Linked DNA regions of Homo sapiens. The protein of the gene in region 4 purifies or fractionates together with the protein of the main gene of each other region. This does not show direct contact. Each region holds a gene or a part of one and is shown on either strand. Other genes may lie near its edges.

Evidence for each region.
Region 1: the proteins of REEP1 (region 4) and ZFYVE27 purify together in Homo sapiens (co-immunoprecipitation; one study listed by IntAct). This does not show direct contact.
Region 2: the proteins of REEP1 (region 4) and ENDOD1 purify together in Homo sapiens (affinity purification with mass spectrometry; one large-scale study listed by BioGRID and IntAct). This does not show direct contact.
Region 3: the proteins of REEP1 (region 4) and CAV2 purify together in Homo sapiens (affinity purification with mass spectrometry; one large-scale study listed by BioGRID and IntAct). This does not show direct contact.
Region 5: the proteins of REEP1 (region 4) and PLSCR1 purify together in Homo sapiens (affinity purification with mass spectrometry; 2 studies listed by BioGRID and IntAct, with this or other methods). This does not show direct contact.

What each region holds. Positions count from the first base shown.
Region 1 is NC_000010.11:97,750,003-97,754,528, reverse strand, and holds part of ZFYVE27 (protrudin), read right to left. Parts: intron 4,199-4,526; coding exon 4,059-4,198; intron 3,154-4,058; coding exon of another isoform or gene 3,139-3,153; coding exon 3,067-3,138; intron 1,673-3,066; coding exon 1,652-1,672; intron 1,492-1,651; coding exon 1,347-1,491; intron 1-1,346. UniProt on the Homo sapiens protein: Key regulator of RAB11-dependent vesicular trafficking during neurite extension through polarized membrane transport. Promotes axonal elongation and contributes to the establishment of neuronal cell polarity.
Region 2 is NC_000011.10:95,095,660-95,100,185, reverse strand, and holds part of ENDOD1 (endonuclease domain-containing 1 protein precursor), read right to left. Parts: intron 1-4,526. UniProt on the Homo sapiens protein: May act as a DNase and a RNase. Plays a role in the modulation of innate immune signaling through the cGAS-STING pathway by interacting with RNF26.
Region 3 is NC_000007.14:116,502,070-116,506,247, reverse strand, and holds part of CAV2 (caveolin-2), read right to left. Parts: intron 278-4,178; coding exon 127-277; coding exon of another isoform or gene 89-126; 3' UTR 1-88. UniProt on the Homo sapiens protein: May act as a scaffolding protein within caveolar membranes. Interacts directly with G-protein alpha subunits and can functionally regulate their activity.
Region 4 is NC_000002.12:86,327,317-86,331,842, forward strand, and holds part of REEP1 (receptor expression-enhancing protein 1), read right to left. Parts: intron 1-4,526.
Region 5 is NC_000003.12:146,534,321-146,538,846, forward strand, and holds part of PLSCR1 (phospholipid scramblase 1), read right to left. Parts: exon of another isoform or gene 4,432-4,526; intron 3,725-4,431; exon of another isoform or gene 3,676-3,724; intron 2,246-3,675; coding exon of another isoform or gene 2,233-2,245; coding exon 2,220-2,232; intron 1-2,219. UniProt on the Homo sapiens protein: Catalyzes calcium-induced ATP-independent rapid bidirectional and non-specific movement of phospholipids (lipid scrambling or lipid flip-flop) between the inner and outer leaflet of the plasma membrane resulting in collapse of the phospholipid asymmetry which leads to phosphatidylserine externalization on the cell surface.

The DNA.
Region 1 (4,526 bases), on a different chromosome or scaffold from region 4:
AGCCTGAGGAACAAAGTAAGACCCTGTCTCTACAAAAAAAATTCAAAAATTAGCCAGGCATGGTGCTACATGCCTGTAGTCCCAGCTACTCGGGAGGCTGAGCTGTGAGGATCACTTGAGCCCAGGAAGTCGAGGATGCAGTGAGCTGTGATCATGCCACTGCACTCCAGCCTGGGAGACACAGTGAGACCTTGTCTCAAAAAAAAAAAAAAAAAGGGATCTTGAATAACTGGGGGACATTCACACAGCAGAAAGAAAGAGCCTGTCCAGGACATCTAATCCTGAGAAAACAACTGCCCTGGCTGCTGCAGGGGTAGGAAGGCAGGACCCTGGGGGCCCTGAGTCAAATTCCTCAAGATAAACTCCATTGTCTTCTTCCAGGGCACAGACCCTAGAACTCACTCAACACCAGAACACACAGTACTGCCCCCTTACCCTGCTCCCATCTGACAGCAGGCAGGAGGGCCCTTCCTCAGGAGCACAGCAGCTCCCAGGTCAACCTAGCTACTCTAGGTTTCCACCATAATTGTATGTGGCTCAGCTCTCAGCGCTGCTGATCTGAGCCAGGTCTCTAAGCTGTGCTGTCAAGTCCACCCTTCTCCAAAGCTGCCTTCCTTGACCGCTCTCCCCCGACCCTCAGTAAAATAAGGACTGGCTGGGGAGAGGTGAACTCAGGGCTCTATCACGTCCAGAGAAACAATGTTTGCTTCAACTTGCTTCCAGCTGGATAAGAAAGACCAAGACAGGATCCTAGGAACCCACAGCGTGGGTCAGGGCCTCCCACATTAACCGCACCCACTACTTACTATGAACCAACCAGCACTGTGCTAGCCCTTCGTAAGTACTACTGTCTCATTTGACATGAGACCTGTAACAACCCTATGAGGTAAGAATGATGATCCCCCTTTTACAGAAGGGGAAACTGAGGCACGGGGTGTGAAATAATTTGCTCAAGGACACCTGGCTGAGCTGGGATTTGCAGCAGGCAGTGAGACTCTACTCTGTTCCTCACCATCATGCTACACTGCCTTCTGAAGTTCTGTCAGGATTATGGTTCTCTACAGTCCTGGGATGGCATTTCCCAAACTGAGTTCCTTGTCTTCCCACAACTGAATGTCCAATCAGGATGGAGGGACAAGAAGGAACCCACACCCACTCCCTCAGCAGTCCTGCCGGGCATCTGCTAGCTCCCCGGGGTCCCGCGGACACACCTTCACTCCCTGCTCTTGTCACAAGTCAGTACCCACAGTTCTGAGACTCTGCCCCTGTGGCTGGGTGTTCCCCACTAGAGTCCCAGAAGTCCACCCCCACTCCCCCACCAGCCCAGCCCTGTCCCCTGGCCGCACCGAAGTTGTTGGTGGGGTAGCGCTTGCGGAGCCGCTCCGTGAGCCGAGACACCTTGCTGCGCAGCACCTCATTCTTGCTCAGGAACCCGTTGTCCTGCAGGGCCAGCTCATCCTCTGCTGGGCACGGGGCGCCCTCATCATCCTCCTGTGGGAACAGCTCCTTCCAGTCCTGCCCACCTCTTGCAAGGCTGCAGGACCCGTGTGCAGAGGCATCCTGCGCGGCAGCCCCCACGAGGTGTGGCAGCAGCCGGTTCAGCCACCCTCCCCAGCCCAGCCCCTGCCCACCCACCAAGGCTTCCACTTACCAGCACCACCAAGTGGGTCTCCTGCCTCCCAAGGTGCGGGGAAGAGGAGAGAAAACAGAAAGAAAAAGATAGCAAGAAGAAAGAAGCTACCTGGAGGGGCCCCCAAGCAGAAGGAAGCATGGAAGCGCTGCTCTGAGCTCTGCGCACTTCCCAAATGGTGACATTGACAGACGCCCCCCACAAGAGGATCCCAGCATCAAACAGCCTTGGAGAAAGCTAGGTACTACAGTTTCTCAAACTGGGTGAAAATAATTTAGTAGGTCTTTATTTGAATAGAACAGAAAAGGAAAGAAAATATCCCTTACAACGTATTTTCCGGAAACTTTTGTTTCACTTAAGTTTTACATATTTTATAGACCTAAGTGTGACCTGGGTCAAGATGCAAAATGTGTTCCTTACTATGGGTCATGAACAAAAATGCTTGAAAACCCCTGCTCTACATATTCCCTCCACCAAGATTCACGGTCTACAATCATATATCAAAGTTTTGGAGCAATCTTTTAGCCATCAGAAAGTCAAATGCCTGCATGGCCTGGGCTGATGTATGATTGAGGTGAGTTGGGGTAAATCACAGGCCTGGTGGAAATCCACGAGGTGTTTTTCTTATATCTCAATTTCCCACTTTACAAAGAGAAATAAATAAAGAGAAATGATATCCTACTCTAAGAAAAACAAAAACGCAAATGTGACAAATGGCAACTCCCACTTGACCTCAGTGACAAAATACAGCAGGGGGTGTTGAGGACCACCTGTAGCCACAGCATGTGACCTGCGTAAAGGGGACAGCAGCTCCTTAGCTACACCTACTGCTGCAGACTCAGGACTACCAGAGAAACTGGAAACCTGCAGTTCTAATAAAAATCTCTCCATATTTAAACATTGGCTCAAAAAATTATTTTGAAACTTTGCATGCCAAATAAAACACTTCTGCAAACTACCAATTTGAATTACCATCCTAAAATCAAGAAAGCTGTTTAACTTCCTCTGACCTAGCACTTGGCCATGCAACTACTTTCTCCAACCTCCCCTCCCAGCCCCGCAAAGGGACATCTTACGGAACTCACTCTGCAGAAGAGCGGAGACCCAGGGCAGTAGCCTCCTCAAAAGCTGCCTTTCCTATATCAAAGGCACCAAGCCCACGGTCTCCAGCAAAGGCCAGAAATCGTCCAGCTCCCCTAGCAGGGCATTACCCGGAGACTTCCAGAGCCACTCTTGCCCTGGGCACCCAGGACAGCTGGCTCAACCAGAAACAGGAGTGGGGAGGGGTTCAGTGGCACTCTTTCAACCAGTGAGTTCTAGCTCACAGCAAGTTTTAGCTTCTCACTTGGACATTAAAAAACAAAAACAAAAAACAGCTCCAGGACCACCCAATTTCTGGCCTGCTGAGTAGAGGATGCTGGGGAAGGGCCACCCACCTCAATCGCATCTTTAAACTCTTCATCTGGCTCAGCCTCCTCAGCCTCCTCCACGCTGCCCGGTGTGAGGTCCTGGGAAGAGAGACTCTATGACAGAAGGAGAAGGATGGCAGCGCTGCTCCCTAAGGCAGAGGACCACCTCCCCAAGCCAGCATCCAGGCTACCCAAAACACCACGAAATGGCACAATGGCAAGAAAGAAGGAACTCACAGGAAGGAGCAACCTCTAGCCTGGCAGGGCGGGGGAGATGGAAACACGAGCACAGCTGGCCCTACAGTGGCCACATCGCACAGTGGTTGAAGGCACGAGCTCTAGAACCACAGGGCTGGGGTCTTAGACCCAGCCCTGCCACTTACCAGCCACTCTGTGCCTCAGCCTTCTCTTCCACAAATGAGAATGATCTCTTTCTCAGAAATAACCAGCCTGGTGCAGTGGCTCACGCCTGTAATCCCAGCACTTTGGGAGGCCGAGGCAGGCACATCACTTGAGCCCAGGAGTTTGAGACCAGCCTGGGCAACATGGCAAAACCTCATCTTTACTAAAAATACAAAAAAATTAGCTGGGCGTGGTGGCACCTGCCTGCAGTCCCAGCTACCCAAGAGGCTGAGGTGGGAGGACTGCCTGAGCCCAGGAGATGGAGGTTGTAGTGAGCTGTGATTGCCCCACTGCCCTCTAGCCTGGGTGACAGAGGGAGGCCTTATCTCAAAAAAAAAGGAAAAAAAAAAAAGAAAAGGAAAGAAAGAACCTGCACTCCATGATGTGAATATCTATCTATAAAGCACTTGGAGCAGCATCTGACACAGGGTAAGCACTCAGTGAAGCATGGAGTAGCTGTTTTTATTACAATTATTATTATTGAACACTTCAGGGGAGTTAAGGCCTGGGAAATAGCAGGAACTACAACAGAGGCCAGCCCAGGAGCCAAAAACAAGCTGATAACAGGGGGGCCCACAAGCGGCCACAGCAGGCTCTGCCCTGACAGTGGCACTTACCTCCGTGGGTGTGAGGGCAGGCGTGCTGTCCATCAGACCATCCTTCCCCCCAACATCTGGTGGTGGAGGACTCTCAAAGGCATGCTCTTCCTGCTTTGGGTTCATCCTCTGCTGCAGAGATGCCCTGTACTCAGACACAACTACCCAGGGAATGGAGAACAAGGTAGGAGGCAAAAATGAGACACCGTGAGTGGCACTTTAGGGGTACCCACTTCTGCAGCTGGCTGGCCTCTCTTCCCTTCACTACAGGAAAGAGTCACCCTCCTAACTCTGAGCGAGTCACCTAACTTAAGCCTCTTAAACAAAACTTAGATACCACCACCTGCCCCAGACAGCTACAGAGATTAAATGTAGTAAATGCTCAATAAATCATGGCTTCTGTAATAAATAACTCTACCACAGGGAGGAAAACAAATACAGCAATCACCCAAACATATGTACAGACTCGGGCCTCTGCGACTCAGTGCC
Region 2 (4,526 bases), on a different chromosome or scaffold from region 4:
GACTCGTATAGGAGGGAAGTCTGTCCACTAAGGAGCAGAAAGTAAGGTCATCAACCACCCCAAACACCTCATGTCTATGAAGGAGTTATATCTGGTTCTATGATGGATACTATGGCTCTAGATACAATGGAGATATCCAAGAATGAGAATAAAAGTTTTTTATGGTTCACAAACTTGGCTTTCTTTTCCCTGTGTTTCTGCGTGTCCCGAGAACATAGTGGATGCCCAATCTTTCAGAAACATCAACCGTAGATATTTCATTATGGGGTTCCTATTTAACCATGCATCCTGGTCCATTTAATCAACAAAGTTGACTTGGATCCCTTAGTTATAAACACTAAGATAACAGCAAGCAGATTTCCTGAAACCAGTGCTGCCATCTCACAAACATAGAGGGAAGGCACATTTACCAAGCTGTGATAAAGTCGGTATAGGGACAAATGCAAGAACCTGCAAAGATGAAGGACTTTAACTTACTAAACAGTCATAAAGGAAAAAGGAATTTTGGCACGTTCAAGGAGGTATACGTTCTGAGTTAGAGCAAAGTCCCTCCTCTTGTCCCAAAGTAGGACTTACTGCATTACTGGGTTATTAAGTTTAAGTGTTCTGCTGGTCTTCCTTCCTGGGAGCCAAGCTGGCTGCAGAGAAGGAGCTCCTGAACAGACTAGGGCTGGATGATGGATGTGTGGGTCTGCCACCTCTGCTCAAGGAGCGGAGCTCTGGAGGGTGTAGTCGGCCTGGGCACCTCCTTCCCACCCCTAGGGACAGCTGGCATTGAGACAGGAGATGGGCTCTCCTCAGGCTCATGCACCACATCCAATCCAACAGCCTGTCTGGCAGCAATGTCTCCATACGCCCAGAGATGCAAGACTCTATCCCCTACCCTCTTATCTCCGCTACTCACTGAGATGCAGGGGACAAAATCTGTTGCTCAACAGAGTTAACACAGTTTTTGGGTGATCCATTTTTCCCAGCTCTAACCTGGTGCCTTATGGAAAATGTCTGCTTGCATAAGGATAATAGGAAGAGCTCAAGATGGATCAGTATAGAACAAGACTGTACAAGGGGGCAGAGCACCCTCGGCCCAATGGAGTACTTGCAATAACCCCACCCTTCCTATAGCCACAAAGGTACACCTGGAGGTGGTGAGCCTCTGATATTCATGGGCGTGTGACTGCCAGAGCTAGAAACACACCCTCTATAAAATCCTGGTAAATGAACATGTGAACTTTTAAAAGATAAACTTCATTCAAGAGCATTCAATAGGAGCTCACCCAACACATCAACAGGTTTGCAACAGAAGCAGTCCATGTGTGCTCTGGTGTCAGACAGCTCAGGTTCAAACCCGAGCCCCACCTCTTCTTAGCTGTGTAAAAATGCAATAGTAGTTTAACCTCTCTGGGCCTGTTTCCTCCTCTAAGAAGGATAATAATAGTACCTATTTCTGACGATGCTGAGGATTACATGAAATTACATGTGAAAAAAAAAACACTAGAAAAGTGCCTCCTGCCATATGATAAGCATCCAATGAGCTCTAGACTGTACTTACTTGAAGGTCAATTGAATACCTGAAGGTATCTCGCACTCAGAGTGCCCAAAACGGAGTACCTTTTCCTCCTACAGCTGTATCAAAGTATAACTGATATACAAAGAATTGTACATATTTAATGTGATGAATTAAATGTGCAATAAATATGTAATAACCCATCACATAATTAATGTGCTGGGTTTGGATGTATGCAAATACCCATGATACAATCACAACAACCAAGGAGGGAGACATGTCCAACACCTCCCATACTTTCCTTGTGTCCTTTTGTTTGTTTTGTGTGCGTATTAAGAAAACTTAATATGAAATCTACTCTCTTAACAAATTTTGAAGTGCACAATACAATATCATCAACTATAGGCATTACATTGTACAGCAGATCTCTAGAACTGATTTATCCCATGTAACTGAAACTTTATACCCATTAAACAAGAGCTCCTCATCTTCCCCACCCCTCAGCCCCTGGTAGCCACTATAGGTTGAGCATCTCAGATCTGAAAATCCAAAATCCAATATGTTCCAAAATCCAAAGCTTTTTGAGTACTGACATGACATTCAAAGGAAATGCTCATTAAAGCATTTCAGATTTCAGATTTCCAGATTTGGGAGGTTCAGCCACTAATTCCAAAATCCAAAAAAAAATCTTCAAACTGAAACACTTCTGGTCCCAAGCATTTCAGATTAGGGATACTCAACCAGTATTATATTCTTGCTCTTATGAACAAAAGCGAGTTCTTGATATGGCCCCCAAACAGCCCCTCCTTTTGTATCCTTGTCTTATTCATGACAACTCCATTCTTCTGATTATTCAGGCCCAAACCCTTGGAGTCATCTCTTCCCTTTCTCTCACTCCAAAGACTATGAGCTCTTTCTTCACAATATATCCAGAATATACAGTGCTATCATCTTGATCCAAGATACTACTGTCTTGTCAGATCACTGAAACCTCCTAACTGGTTTCTTTGCTTCTGCCCTTAACACCACATGTCTATTCTCAATGCAGCAGCCAAAATGGTCCTATTTAAATGTAAGCCAGATCACATCGAAGCTCTCTGCTCAGAACCCTGCACAATTGCTTCCCACTTCACACACAGTAAAACCCCAATATTTTACAAATAGCTCAGAAGAATCTAAATGATCTGCCGTCTCCTTCCCCACTTCTCTGACCTCATCTCCTGCTACTCTCATTTACTCTTCTCTAGCCAAACCAGCCTCTTAGTTCTTCCTCAACACACTCATGCCTCCAGGCCTTTGCAATTACCATTCCCTTTACCCAGAACGTTTTCCCCCTCTATAGATGCCTGCATAATTGGCTTTCTTACTTCTTTCATGTCTATACCCAAAAGTCAACTCCTCAGTGATCTCTTCCCTGGATGGAAACCTTGTTTTAAACTTCACCTTTTCCTTGATATCTCATAGCCTCCTTCCTTGCTTTTTCTCCTTAACACTTATCACTGTCTAATATGCCTTTTTTTTTTTTTTGAAACAGGGTCTTACTCTGTCCCCCAGACTGGAGTGCAGTGGCATGATCTCAGCTCACCACAGCCTCTACCTCCCAGGCCCAAATGATCCTCCCACCTTAGCCTCCATGAGTAGTTGGGACTACAGGTGCATGCCAGCACTCCTCGCTAATTTTTGTAGAGATGGGTTTTTGCCATGTTGCCCAGGCTGGTCTCGAACTCTTAGGCTCAAATGATCAGACCGCCTTGGCCTCCCAAAGTAGTGGGATTACAGGCATGAGCCACCATGCTTGGCACCTTGTCTTTTATTTATTTATTTTATAATCTATATTCTCTATTAGATATAAACCCTATGAGAGTAGGTATTTTTGTCTGTAACCACTGCTCTCTTTCCAGGACTTAGAATAGTGCCTCACACATAGCAGATGCTCAATAAAGATTTGTTGACTAAAATGAATTGACAGAGGGCTCAGGGCTTTCTTAAAGCATTAGGTGTCCCTGCCAACTGGAAGTCAATAAAAACTGAAGACCAATCAGCCCTTAAAGTATAAGTCAACTGAAACATGTAATTACATTTATATTTTCAAATAATATTTCAGCCATCTGTTTATTCTACAAAGTAAAATGTACCCGTATTTTCAGCTTTGATTAAAAATATAAACTACCCTCTGTTTGACCTTTTGATTGAGCCACACTTCTGTTCAGCACTAGGTCAATGAAGCATGACTGGAATATTAAACGGTGCTTCTATTCTTGGTTCAGCCTATGAGTCAGTTTCTTTTTCATTTCTCCTTCCTTTCAGTGGCCAAATAGATATATCGACAGGCAATGAATTATTACTATGACAGATGTTAAGTTTCATGAAAATGAAAGGGTAAGTCACCATTCAGAAGATATAACATGCATCTTGAAGGAGGAAATTTGAAAAAAAAAAAAAAAAAAAAAAAAAGCTTTCTTGACTAACAGTAATTCTAGAAGATAGACCAGATAACTGAAAACAAATGCTACTGGCAAATAAGAGGATTTACTTTCTAAAATTTTCACTTTCAGAGATGAGAGTTTAAAAGGAAGAGAAATTTTATGCCCAAAGAATAAAATCTCAATTCCCTAAGGAAAGCTCCATTCAATCACCATGAATCACCAGTAACGGAGCTAAAAGAAATCTGAAGCTGGCATTTACATACAGAATGGTATGTTAGTAGTGAAACCATAAACCATCCAAAGAACTGGATTAAAAATAAAATAACAAGTCTAGTCAGCCAGTTTGGATTCTGGAGAGAAAAAACTAACATTTTAGTTAGAAAATAGTGTGATAGAGAATAAAGAGAGTTAAGAGCTTTGGATTTGGGCAGTCATAAACTCCTGTCCAGGTTTTGCCATCTAGAAGCTGTTTGACCTTGGATAAGTTACTTAACTACTCCGAACCTCAGTTTCCTAAACTATAAAACACAAGTCATAATACCTAGAGTTGTTATAGAGATGAGATGAGTTAGAATGTGAAGACCTTTGACATGGTA
Region 3 (4,178 bases), on a different chromosome or scaffold from region 4:
GGTTGCTCATCTTAATAGTTTTCTTAATTAGAACAGCTAGGAAATGAACAGAACAGTGGTGCTTTTATGTTATAATAACAAAGAAGTATTACAGTATCCCAATCTCCAGACCTGGGGTCCAAGTATTCAATCCTGGCTCAGTTGCAGGCTGACAGAAGAGAAGCATCGTCCTACGCTCGTACACAATGGAGCAATGATAACATCTGTCACACTCTTCCATATTGTCTGCACTGAAGGCAGAACCATTAGGCAGGTCTTTACAAAAGGCATTAAAATCCTGGAAGGAAGGAAGAGAGATGTGTGAGGATTGTTGCTGTTACCAAATAAGGTCTGTCTTGTACATGTATGAAAAGATAAAATACTGACCCATTTACTTAAATTTGGTTGAGAGTTTGAAACAAATAAATGAACAATGATCACTGATAATGATTTGGGTTTTTTGTCCCCCTGACTCTCATTTTGAAATGTAGTCCCCAGTGTTGGAGGTGGGGCCGAGTGGGGATAATTGGATCACAGCGGGTAGATCCCTCATGAATGTCTTAGTGCCTGCCACCCTCTTGGTAACGTGAGTTCTCACTCAGTTAGTTTGCTTGAGATCTGATTAACTAAAAGAGTCTGGGACCTCCACATTCTCTCTCTTGCTCCCTTTCTTGCCATGTGACGTGCCTGCTCCTCCTTCTCCTTCCACTATAAGTGGAAGCTTCCTGAGGTCCTTGCCTAAAGTAGATGCTGGCACTGTGCTTCCTGTACAGCCCGCAGAACTGTGAGCAAAAATAAACCTCTTTTCTTTATAAATAACCTAGTCTCAGGTATTCCTTCATAGTAATGCAAATGGACTAAAGTGATAAGATGCACAAAAAATATGTTGCCTAAAAATATAGTCATGTAGATAATAAACACTAATATTCTTTCTACTGGTGGCATGCTATCTGAAACAGTAAAACAAAAATAAATAAAACCATGTCTTTATCTACCTGGTCTCTGCCAGTTAACATTAACCTGCTTAAGTCTTCACACTTCCCTGAGGGTTTACTTCCTGATAGCCTTTCCTGCTGCCTCAGTCTTCTTCCCTTTTCCTGGACCAGGCTAGATCGGATATTCCCTCATTGTATTTCTAAAGTACTGAAACAAACTTCTTAATTTTCACATGTATCAAAAGGTATTATAAATAGATGCTGTATTTCTGTCTTTCCTACTAGCGTTTAAGTTTTTTTAAACAGTGAGGACATCCTTGACCCTTAGTAAATGGTTGAGCTAACATAAATTTATCATTCTTTTATGCCTTATGTTATTAACTATGTTTTATATTTTTTAATTTTTTCACAGTAATCACACACACTGAAAAGGGCTGTATGGTATAGTTGAAAGAACCCTGCAAATGATGTTAGAACTTTTACACAAGAAAACTAGTCTATCCTGAAATTGTTATTTTTCATACACTTGTTCCTAACATAGCTGCATATCCTTATAGTCCTCAGGATGGTTAATTTTATATGTAATTTTCTAAATAATGTTCTCTGTTGTAGTAATGTCCTCTGAGCACAAAAGTAGTTGTGAGATTTTCAGGCACTGCTGGTAGCCTCAATGGAAGCTTTATTATTACCTGGGTGGGCATAAGGGAGTAGGCTGATTTTCTTGGTTTGCTATTAAAATATGACTTAAATGAGGGTCTGCTGTACTTAGCCCAAAATGAAGGAAATATTAGGCAGCTTTCTGATTGATTGATATATTTTTAGAATATAGAATTATTCACATTGACTGTCTCCACAAATTGTGTTTTATTTCAAGTGCTAAATACATGAAACACTTTTATATAATAAGAAAATTAATTACTAAGTGTTTCAGAGATAAATAGCTGAATAGAAACCTCAATGATGGCAACTTTAGACTTATTATTCTATTATATTTCTCACTTGATATGTGGTCTTGGGCATGTTGCTACAAATTAAAGTGACACCAGGAGATCTCTCAGAACTGGCTATGAGGATTGACATTTATTATGTACCCCTGAAATGCCTGTATGATGCTGTCATTATAATGTATAATAAATAGACCTATTTTGAAGGCAGAATATATAATGAAAATAACTATAACAAGATGACCTCAAATTGGCCTATTAAAAGGCTGAAGTTTAGATCAGAAAGTTTCCTAACCAAATCCACTTCACTTAGAATTCCTTCCTTCTTTCTTTCTTTCTCTTTCTTTCTTTTTCTTTCTCTTTCTTTCTTTCTTTCCTTTCTTTTCTTTTTTCTTTCTTCTTTTCTTTCTTTCTTTCCTTCTTTCTCTTTTTCTTTCTGTCTTCCTCCCTCCCTCCCTCCCTCCCTTCCTTCCTTCCTCCCTCCCTCCCTCCCTCCCTCCCTCTCTTTCTTTCTCTCTTTCTTCTCCCCTCCCCTCCTCTTCCCTTCCCTTCCTTCTTTCTTTTCAGGTTCTCACTCTATTGCCCAGGCTGGAGAGCAGTGAAGTGATCTCGGCTCACTGCAACCTTCGCCTCCCGGGTTCGAGTGATTCTCCTGCCTCAGCCTCCCTGAGTAGCTGGGATCATGGGCACTTGCTACTATGCTTGGCTAATTTTTGTATTTTTAGTAGAGACAGAGTTTCACCATGTTGGCCAGGCTGTTCTTGAACTCCTGACCTCAAGTGATCTGCCCAGCTTGGCCTCCCAAAGTGCTGGGATTACAGGCGAGAGCCACTGCTCCCAGCCAGAATACAATGTACTTTCTATTCTTCCTTAGGCTAACAAATTTTCTATCTCCGTGACTCCTTAGATCTCCATGTCCTAAAAGGGAATTTAGCACATGTCAAAAGTGAATCTTCTTGTTCAGCAAAGCAGTTACCCACATTCGAGGAGTTCAGTTTATAGGGTGTTGTTAACTCATTTGGATTTTATTTTTGTTTACTTGTGTTCCCTCATTTTGGAGCAGAGAATCTAATGATCCTCCGACATCAAACTTAAGTTGGGTTCTCAACATCACAAATAGTTTAGCTTCTGAAACTCCAGGCAGTTCTGATTGACCCAAAATTTGGTTGAGGCTGAATGTGGCCAATACTTCTTAAGTAAATCTTATAATATATATATATTATATATATTAATATATGTAAGGTTATATATTCCTTGGATAATATATATCCTTGGATAATAAGGCCATAGGATAGAGACTTTTATTTAGTGTTGTAGTAATTGTAGAGTCATGCAGACTGCATTCATAGCAATTTACTGTATGAAAACTGTCTTCTAGAAATGAGATTGCTACTATCGCATTTCCATCAGTTGGGCATTTGTTTGCTTTGCATTCCAGCAAAAATAAGGGATATGGGTGCTCCAGCCACATTTCTTTGGTTATGATCCACTTATGACCAATAACCTGTGCTTAACAAACAGCAGCTATCTCTGTCTGACTGTAGTATGGAATCCAACTAATTCACTGATTCCTAATGGCCCGTACTTCTGGTCTAGGATCCAACACCACCAGACTTCTGTGTTTTATTGTTGTTGATTGTTTGTTTAAAGGATCTAAAATCTGACCTGTTTTAATATTGTGACATGGTTCAAAGTTCCACTACTGCATATTTTCCTAGCTTTGGTCACCACTAACTTTTTGGTAAAAACAATACACAAGCCCCTGCTTTAAAAAATATATATAAAAAGAAAACAAAACAAAAAAAGCTTGCCCAAATGGGTTTGCAATTCTGTAAGGTCTGTCCTTGATCTGGTCTTATCATGTCATGGGAATGCAATCTATTAATGATAAACCTATTTTATCAAGGCATAGCTAACTTTTAAGCATTCTTGTTTGAAATTACTCCTCTACTTGCAATCACAGCTGCCTGGTGACAAATGTTTTACAGTTAAATATTAATGCCCCACATAAATATAGTTAAAAAAACAAGCTGAAGTTAAATAATATTAAATAATACATTTTATGTGGCTAAAAAAAGGTGCATTGATGATTCACCAATTGAAGCACTATACAAAAACACCTCCCATTCTCAGAAGAGCCAGCTGGAGAGAGGCATTGCTTGGTTAATTGTAGTTTTACTTATATCTTTCCACCACTTAGTAAATGAGAAACTTTTTTTTTTCAAATTCTTTCACAAAAGCTTTGGGAAGCCTAGCTTTGTTGACTATAAATATGGTACTTCACATTTCCAAATAGCTTCATAGTCAGCATTTCACAATA
Region 4 (4,526 bases):
ATTATAGAAATAATATATATTATTAATATATGTATGTGCAAAGGGTGCTGGATGGGACAAGCTTGCCACCTTCTAAGAATAGTGAGGAGGCTGCAGCTGAGTGAGAGAGGGGAGGCCACTGCAAGGTAAGGTCAGAGCGTGGGCAGGAGCCAGACCTTGGTGAGTGTTGTTGACAATGGTAAGGACTTTGAGTTTTACTCTTAGTGAGATGGAGCAGTTTTTAAACAGCAGGGGAAAGATGGTCTATCTTACTTTTTTTTTTTTTTTTGGAGATGGGGCCTCGCTCTGCCGCCCAGGCTGGAGTACAGTGGCGTGATCTCGGCTCACTGCAAGCTCTGCCTCCCAGGTTCACGCCATTCTCCTGCCTCAGCCTCCTGAGTAGCTGGGACTACAGGCACCCGCCTCCACATCCGGCTAATTTTTTGTATTTTTAGTGCAGACGGGATTTCACCGTGTTAGCCAGGATGGTCTGGATCTCCTGATCTCATGATCTGCCCGCCTCGGCCTCCCAAAGTGCTGGGATTACAGGCATGAGCCACCGTGCCTGGCCCTATCTTACATTTTAATGAGATCACCGGAGGGACAGGAATAGAAGCAGAGAAAACAGTCAGGAGGGTTTTCAATGGTCCAGGAGAGCAACAGTATTTGGTTGGAGCAGGGTGGCAGTGGTGGAGGTGGGAGTCATGGGTAGACAGGCGAGTATTTTGAAGGCAGAGCTAGGAGAACTTGCTGAGAGCCTGGATTCCACAACACGCAGCCTGAAGTGTGCACAGATCCTGCTGGATCCTGCAACTCCCTCAGGAGGGGCACGTGTGGACTCGTGGTTCTCAGCTTCAGGTGCTCATGAGAAAAAGTCCTTGCATGTTCTTGGAAATCCAACGTGAATCTCCAGCATCAGCTGGCCAGGCTCACTAGCCTCTTTCTCAAGGTGGGTTGTATTCCCTCTCCTCTGAGCAGCGTGACCCACTCAGCCCAATATTCTGTCTCACAGGCATAGCTTTGGCAGTCTAAGCCCTAGTTGTGACAAGACTAAATTTTACACTGATCACAATTAGGCAGCCAATCTGTGAAAGTAAGAAAGGAGGCCAGGCCCAGTGGCTCATGCCTGTAATTCCAGCACTTTGGGAGGCCAAGGTGAGGAATCACGAGGTCAGGAGATCGAGACCATCCTGGCCAACATGGTGAAACCCCGTCTCTACTAAAATACAAAAAATTAGCTGGGCGTGGTGGCGGGCACCTGTAGTCCCGGCTACTCGGGAGGCTGAGGCAGGGGAATTGCTTGAACCCAGGAGGTGGAGACTGCAGTGAGCCAAGATGGTGCCACTGCACTCCAGCCTGGCGACAGAGTAAGAATCCATCTTAAAAAAGAAAAAAAAGAAAGTGAGACAGGAGGGCTGCCTTGACCCCTCTGTGGGACTTGTGACAGGGGTGTGGCTTGCTTACTCGGCCTGCAGTGCTCAAACCCCTTGCAGGAGGGGAAGCATGCAGGTGAGCAGGTGCCAGGGCTGGGGTGAGCACTTTTGGGCTCTGGTCCCGTGGCAGCGTCTAGGGGTGTGTTACAATTAATGCTGTTTTAGCAGTTGCCGTCTGCAGATGGCTGTTAACCAGCTCAGTGGAGAGTCAGGGTGACAGTCTTTTATACCCTGCCCTCTTGGTACCCGGGTTCCAGGAAGAACCCGGCATCCTGGAAGAATCAGGTCACACAGACTTGAAGGATGGTGAATGCAGAGATTTTATTGAGTGATGGAGGTGGTTCTCAGTGAGATGGGGAGCTGGAAAGGGGATACAGTGGGAAGATAATCTTCCCCTGGAGTGCGGCCATCCCTGGCCAAACTCCTCTCAACGTTCAGATGCTTCTCTTCTCTCCTCTGCCATGCCACTCTGCTTCTCTGCCAGTGGAGTTTGGGGTTTTTATGGATACAGGATGCGGGGTGTGGCGAGCCAGAGTGGTTTTGGAAAAAGCAATATTTGGGCAGGAAAACAGGGATAACTGTTCTCATTTAGGGCCGCAGTTTCCAGGCTTGAGGGTGGGGCCTTTGCCAGGGAACTGCCCTCTTCTATCCAGTGTTTCCCTGCCTCCTGTCCATATCAAAAGGTTCTTGGCTGGGCACTGGGTTGACAGAGTCTAGATATGCTATTTAGAACTCATCATAAAAACTTGGGGTCAGAACCTCTCAGAACCAGAAAGCATGAATGACAGTCTAGCACAAATGGTGGCTTGCAATTGAATCCCAGGTCCAAGGTCCACAGACAATAATGAAAACCTCAGGCAAGTCCATCTCTTTTCAATTCACAGGGGACATGATGGCACCCTGTCTCCTGACTCAGCCCTTCTCAGGCTTTATGGGGATCTTGTTAAAATGCAGATTCACCAGGCCTGGGACTCTGCATTCCTAACTATTCCAGTAATGCCAATGCTGCTGGTGCACAGACCACACTCTGAGGAGTGAGGTCCTGACTCATTCACCACCCAACACGCACTCGCTGGGCACCTACTGCATATGAGAAACTATAAGGGAGACGAAGCAGATGTGGTCTGTAAGGGGATATCAACGCACAGACCACTATAGCACCAGGAACAAAGTGACAATGCCACTCTGGAGACCCAGAGGACAGAAATCTTTCTTGGTTAGGGGACCTAGGAGAGGCTTCATGGAGAAAGGTAGAGACATGTATGGAGAGTGTAGTGAAAGCCAGAGGGCACCTTCCAAGGCTTTAGCTATGGAATGGCATCGGTTCTTTGTAATTGCTAATTTCTCCTCAGACTTAAGACCTCCTTTCTTGACTCACGAACAGAATAAAGGGACTAAAAGGGAAGTGAGAAAGATATTTCTAGTGTAGAGATTGAAGGAGTATGTCAGGATTCTCCCAGTTGCACAATACCATATTATGCCAAGGACATTTCTAGGTTTGCAAAGCTGGTTAGGAGTCATTCATTCAACATATATGCTGGTCATTAGGGCTGTTCTTTAGTGAGGAGTGTAACCACTTGAATTCAGGTTTGGCCAATGACATGTGAGCAGAAATGGCATGTTATCATCTCCAGGTGCAGGTACTTATGAGCTAGTATGTGACTCTCCCTACCACAGTGAATCCTGGTGTGTGTGTGTGTGTGTGTGTGTGTGTGTGTGTGTGTGTGTGTGTGTTAAGACAGGGTCTCACTCTGTTGCTCAGGCTCAGTGCAGTGGCATGATCTCGGCTCACTGCAACCTCCAGCTCCCAGGCTCAAGTGATCCTCCCACCTCATCCTCCAAGTAGCTGGGACCACAGGTGCACACCACCATGCCCAGCTAATTTTTGTATTTTTTTTGTAGAGATGGGGTTTTGCCATGTTGCCCAGGCTGGTCTCAAATTCCTGGGCTCAAGTGATCTGTCCACCTCTGCCTCCCAAAGTGCTGGGATTACACGGTCAGCCACCGTGCCCAGCCAGAATCCTGATGTCTTATAACGATAAGACAAAGGAAATCCAGTCAGCCTGGGACTCTCAGTGAATGCGATGAGCAGAGTACCCCTGCCAACCCACAGTAACAGGCAGCAGAAAGCAAGAAATAAACCTTTGTTTTCTTGAGCCACTGGGATTTGGGAGTTGTTCCTGCAGCATACCCCAGTCCATCCGAACAACAAATATTTAATGGATTATAAGCAGCATTTAAAGTTTTCATTCTAGGATATCGGACAGTTCATGGCATCAAAAAAGCAGCTGCAGGAACTGGGGCCCGAGCAACCAGAACCAAGATTCTCTTGTGCCAGCCTCTTTCTCTCACCCAAGTCTCATCTCCATTTATTTTTGCTTTGTTGTATTCTTCACTTTTACTTATGGACTTTCTCCACGTATGCCAGGGGCTTTAGATGCCTCAGCCCTAACTTCATATCTTCCCAACTCTGGAACCCATAGGCAAGGCTATTCTCCCTCAGCTCCAAATCAAGAAACCCTGGGGAAGGATCTCAGTTTGGGTCACCTGCCCACCTCTGGACCAATGTCTGTGCCCAGGGAAATGCATATCTAGGCCTGGGTCACATGCTGACTTCTGTGGCTGAGTGAAGGGAGGCAGGATGCAGCATGCTACCAGAAGGGAATGGAAAACTAGTTTTGCAGCCCAAAGTACTATCCAGAGTCCCCTACAAAGAGGGGGAAAGGATATACACACCTAAGTATGCAGGAGAATGCCTAAGGCAGACTTTGAGCTGTGATCAGTGAAAGGAAAAAAAAAAGGTGGGGGGGCGGGGAATGTAGTATAGATACGCAGGATAGTCCTAAGAGGAAAGAGAAGCAGGGCAAGACAGCCTCTAGGCTGGACAGCTACCTAGAGTGGGAACAGGAGGCACCTTTGTCCTAGAACTGCCAGGTGACTGACAAGGCCACGGGGAGAGGGAGAGATAGGATGTCAGGAGGAGATGTTAACTCAAATAACAGATGCTCTCTGTTTACTAATCTAGTAAATCTGACAATGGGGCAGACCTTTTCTGATCAGGAATGAGCTAAGTGTGGAAGAGCAAATACTGAACCAACCCATGTGCCCCATTGC
Region 5 (4,526 bases), on a different chromosome or scaffold from region 4:
ACAGCTTAAGGTGCAGTAGACACTACACTTATCTCCTTATCTGTTTCCTTATGAATTACTAACTGTAAATTCAAAGTCTTTTGTTTTAGAATCATGGAGACATGGCATCAATATAGAAGAACATATAGGTCAAACTTTCACTGTAACACATTTTTCTGTATGTGTCTCTATTATGAACTTTCAAAGACCACTCAACTTGTGAATCGTGTGGTTTTATCAGGAAGATTGGATTGTTTCCCCCACCCCCTGCCCCGGCCTTTCTCCTTCATAAATAGCTTCATGATGACTTCAGCGGAATCCAGTCCATGGTGATTGTGTAAAATCAGGCAAAAAAACCGCTCTCCTACTCGTTCAAGACTAGCCTGGCCAACAAAATGAAACCCCATCTCTACTAAAAATACAAAAATTAGCCAGGCATGGTGGCACGCGCCTGTAGTCCCAGCAACTCAGGAGGCTGAGGCAGGAGAATCACTTAAACCCGGGAGGCGGAGGTTGCAGTGAGCCGAGATCGTGCCACTGCACTCCAGCCTGGGCGACAGAGCGAGACTCCATCTCAAATAAATAAATAAATAAATAAATAACACAAAACAACAACAAAAAACAAATGAGGACTTTTCCCTGGACAAACATTGCAACATACCTTGTGATTTGTGAATCATCACAAATCTCTGAAACTCCCCATCATTCTTTCCCATCCATTCTCTTCTATTTCTCAGCATCAAGTGACTGACCTAACTCCCTAGTTCTCTAGCTAATAAGGCCCTGCCTGCAGCCCCTACTCCCAAATTAAGTTGGAAACACAGCATCAGACTCAGAATAGATTTCAAGAAAATATTTTGCAAGTCTGAAGTAAAGATCTACCCTTGACAGGTATGTCACATTGTGATACCTCTTAATAAGCAACATTGTTTGAATACTATAACATAGAACACACACACACACACATATACAGGAACAGACAGACTCAAGAAATCATGAGCTCACAATCTCTGGGCTTTTGGTACCAAAGCAATGATTCTGATTTCAGGCATTCCAGGGGGAATTCATACAAGGAGAATGAGTGAATGGGCAGGTGTTCAAGCAGAACAAAGAGCATGTTAATTATGGTTTGATTACTGCGTTTTTGAAATGCAACTTAAAATGGCTTATAAGAAGTACAAGTCTATCACATTGTCTTAAAGGTACTTTTTTTTATGTCTACATGTATGTATATATACATATTTACACATTTATTCACACACATATACACATTTTATTTCTATTTATGCAAATACATTCATACATACATACAATTATATATACAAAACTGAAGAGTTAAAAGTTGCCTATGACCATCACCAGATACATTTTTGTAAATTGAGTGGAATCAACTTAAAGTCTGTGGCAAATAAACCAGTATAATTCTATATAAATTTACATTTAAAAAGCTTTGAGTTTTGTAAGTAAAAAGAAAATCATAAAACTTCACATGGGAAAAGCAAGGAGTCTAGTCCTGGAGATTATTTCATATATCTAATAAGGGTGACACTGTAGTGACAGATAAATATTTTTTTGTTACCTCAACAAAGATGAAAGAGAGAATAAAGAAAAGCGTTTCAGAAAAACAGGATTTAATTTTTGAATTTAATTTTCCCTATGTAGTGGGAATTTTGAACATAATTTTCCCTCTGTTCTTCAGAACCTTGATATCTTAATAAGACAGTCTTTTATTACTTGCTTGATAAATATCCATCTTACTTAGAATTTTCTTGAGAGAAAAAAAGCCAGAACATAATGACTGGTATTTACTTAAAATACAAACATGTGTCTGTGATGAAATATACATTGAGGTGTGTATCTGAGGAGTTTATTACAATGAACTCAAATCTTATTATCTGTTAATTAGTATGACTTGAATAATCTTTATACATATAAAATACACAAAGAGAATATTGTTGTGGTTTAAATATATGTTACAGAACATATTTCCCAATAAATCTAGCATTTCTTAGCTTTCCAAAAGGCTTTCGTATTTTTAATGAAGAACCTAGTGATAGTGCTATTTTTGTACATCTTCTCTATAGTCAAAATACTGAACTAGACATTGTATTCTGGAGCATAAACAACAGAAAACAAATTATACACTTTCAGACACTGAATAAAACATTATGACAAATAACAAGTTACCAACAGATTAACATTATAAGGAGGAAAGTAAACATTTAAAATAAATTACTTACTTTGTTTGTCCATGATTAAAACAGTTCTGAAAAAGAAGATCTGACATTAACACACTGTCTACAAGGCCACAAGTCAAATATAACAGTTGAATCGGGATACTCTAAAACTACACAGTCACATTCATAGGATATTCCTCTTTATTCATCCAGCCCAGCCTTATCTGGTCATTTAAGCCCTTTGTGCTTGACTGCATTCCCCTTGCTGTGTTTCTGAGTAGGAATTTAGAAATTGTTGGTCAGCTCATGATGGTGAACACATTCTAAAGCCTTTTGGGAAGAGGGTCCAGTGAGGCAGAAAGCCATAAAGACACACTATGAGCTAAGACTCCAAGTAGTAACCAAGCTAATAACATCAACCTTCACAACTTGAACAATCTAAAGGAAATGCTTGGTTCAGTTCCCAGTCTTTGGACTGGAAATGCTTGGCCCAGTCTCTGGGCCCCAGGAATGTTCCAGCAGGAAAGCAAAAAATGTTAATTATCAGGTCACACTACTGCAATTATCTTGGGAAATGTAGGTCTTGTGGACCTGTTCTTTGCAAATTTGAGAAGGCCTGAGACGACTCCGTGCATTCAGAGATTTTTTTTTTTTTTTAACCAGAAAACCCACTCTCAGGAGTTGTCACAGCCATAGCACCTTGACCACCCAAGTGAAACTTTGTACTCGGTATTTATACAGAAACATAAATTGCAGCAAACATTCTACTCAATATTTCTGCCTTCCAGTGCCTTGATCCGATCCTAGTTTTTCCCACTACTATCCTGTCACTACTTTTTCCATCTCCTGTAGATCCCGATGCCCTTCATCCCTTTTAGCGACAATGCATTAGGCAAAACTCTGCTACCCAACATTTTTATCTTGGACCCACACACACTAACACAAACTGCCCATCCCCTTCCCAGGCCCACTCCAGTGCTGGCTACCCTTTAAATTATCTTACTGTGCAATCCTAAGTGGTTAATAAGTCAAGTGATCCCTCTACATGCTCAACTAAAATCAAGACTTCCCAAGAAGAAACCGCCTTCCTCCTTGCTGTTTCAGAATTATTTTTTGGCCAGGGATGGTGGCTTATGCCTATAATGCCAGTATTTTGGGAAGCTGAGGCAGGAGGATCACTTGAGTCCAGAAGTTTGAGATCAGCCTGGGCAACATGGACAGACACTGTCTCTACTAAAAAAAAATTAGCCAAGCATGGTGGCATGCGCTTGTAGTCCCAACTACTCGGGAGGTTGAGGTGGGAGGATTGCTTGAGCCTGGAATATTGACGGTCTAATGAAGTATGATGTCATCACTGCATTCCAGCCTGGGTGACAGAGCAAGACTGTGTTTTAAAATAAAGGGTTTTTTTTGTTTGTTTGTTTTGTTTTGATTATTGCCAACTTTAAGCACAAAATTTTATAATCAACTTAAAGTCTTAAGAACATTCCAATTATAGTCAACTCTTAATTATACATACTCAAGAAGTTCAGCAATGGTTGAATAATTCAAAATGGGTTTATGTGGTCCTGAAATAAATCAAAAGATGTGTTTGTGTTACTAACTTCCCAGATTTTCTTAGGACAATAGGAATCTCAGTTTGCATTAACTGGTCAGAAATTAATGCTGTAGACCTCAAGCCAGAAAGGTAGAAATATTAAAATTTATACTTTTCTGCTGTTAATCTATAAGGTGAGCAATAATAAACACATGTAACCAAAGTAGACTAAAAGTTTTCAAGACTACATTTGTTTTAGATTCCATCATATGAAGAACTGTGTAAGACTAAATTCATACATAAGAGGACATGATTTTTGTCAATCTCACATTTCTACCATCAAAGACTATACTTTAAAATGCCAATTTTTTAAAAATATGCGAAGAGTACTTTAACAGATATATCAGAAAAGATTAATACATACCGAATTAGAAGTAGGTAGTATCCTTTAATTAACACACTGGACTATACATCTCTAAAGTCTTTACCTGCCCCTTGCTTCTTATAGGATACCTCTCTATAACATGCTTAGCTTAAAAAAAAAATTCTATGGCCTTTAACCAATTTTAACAGAAATTTTAAGAAACTAGTGTTTCAATTATTCTCACCGTCCCTACAGGGTCAGAAAAGCACTAAATAATGTCTAAGGGCAAATCCTAAATAAAATGTAAGAGAAGAAACTTAGGCAAGTTTTTATTTTTTATTTTTTTTTATTTTTTGGCAAACAGACTACTCAACTGAAAAAAATTCATAGTTTCTGGATTGCAGATCTATACATCTGAAATAGAAAATATTTTTGTCATCATTTTAAAAATAATTTTTCTTAGCATTTA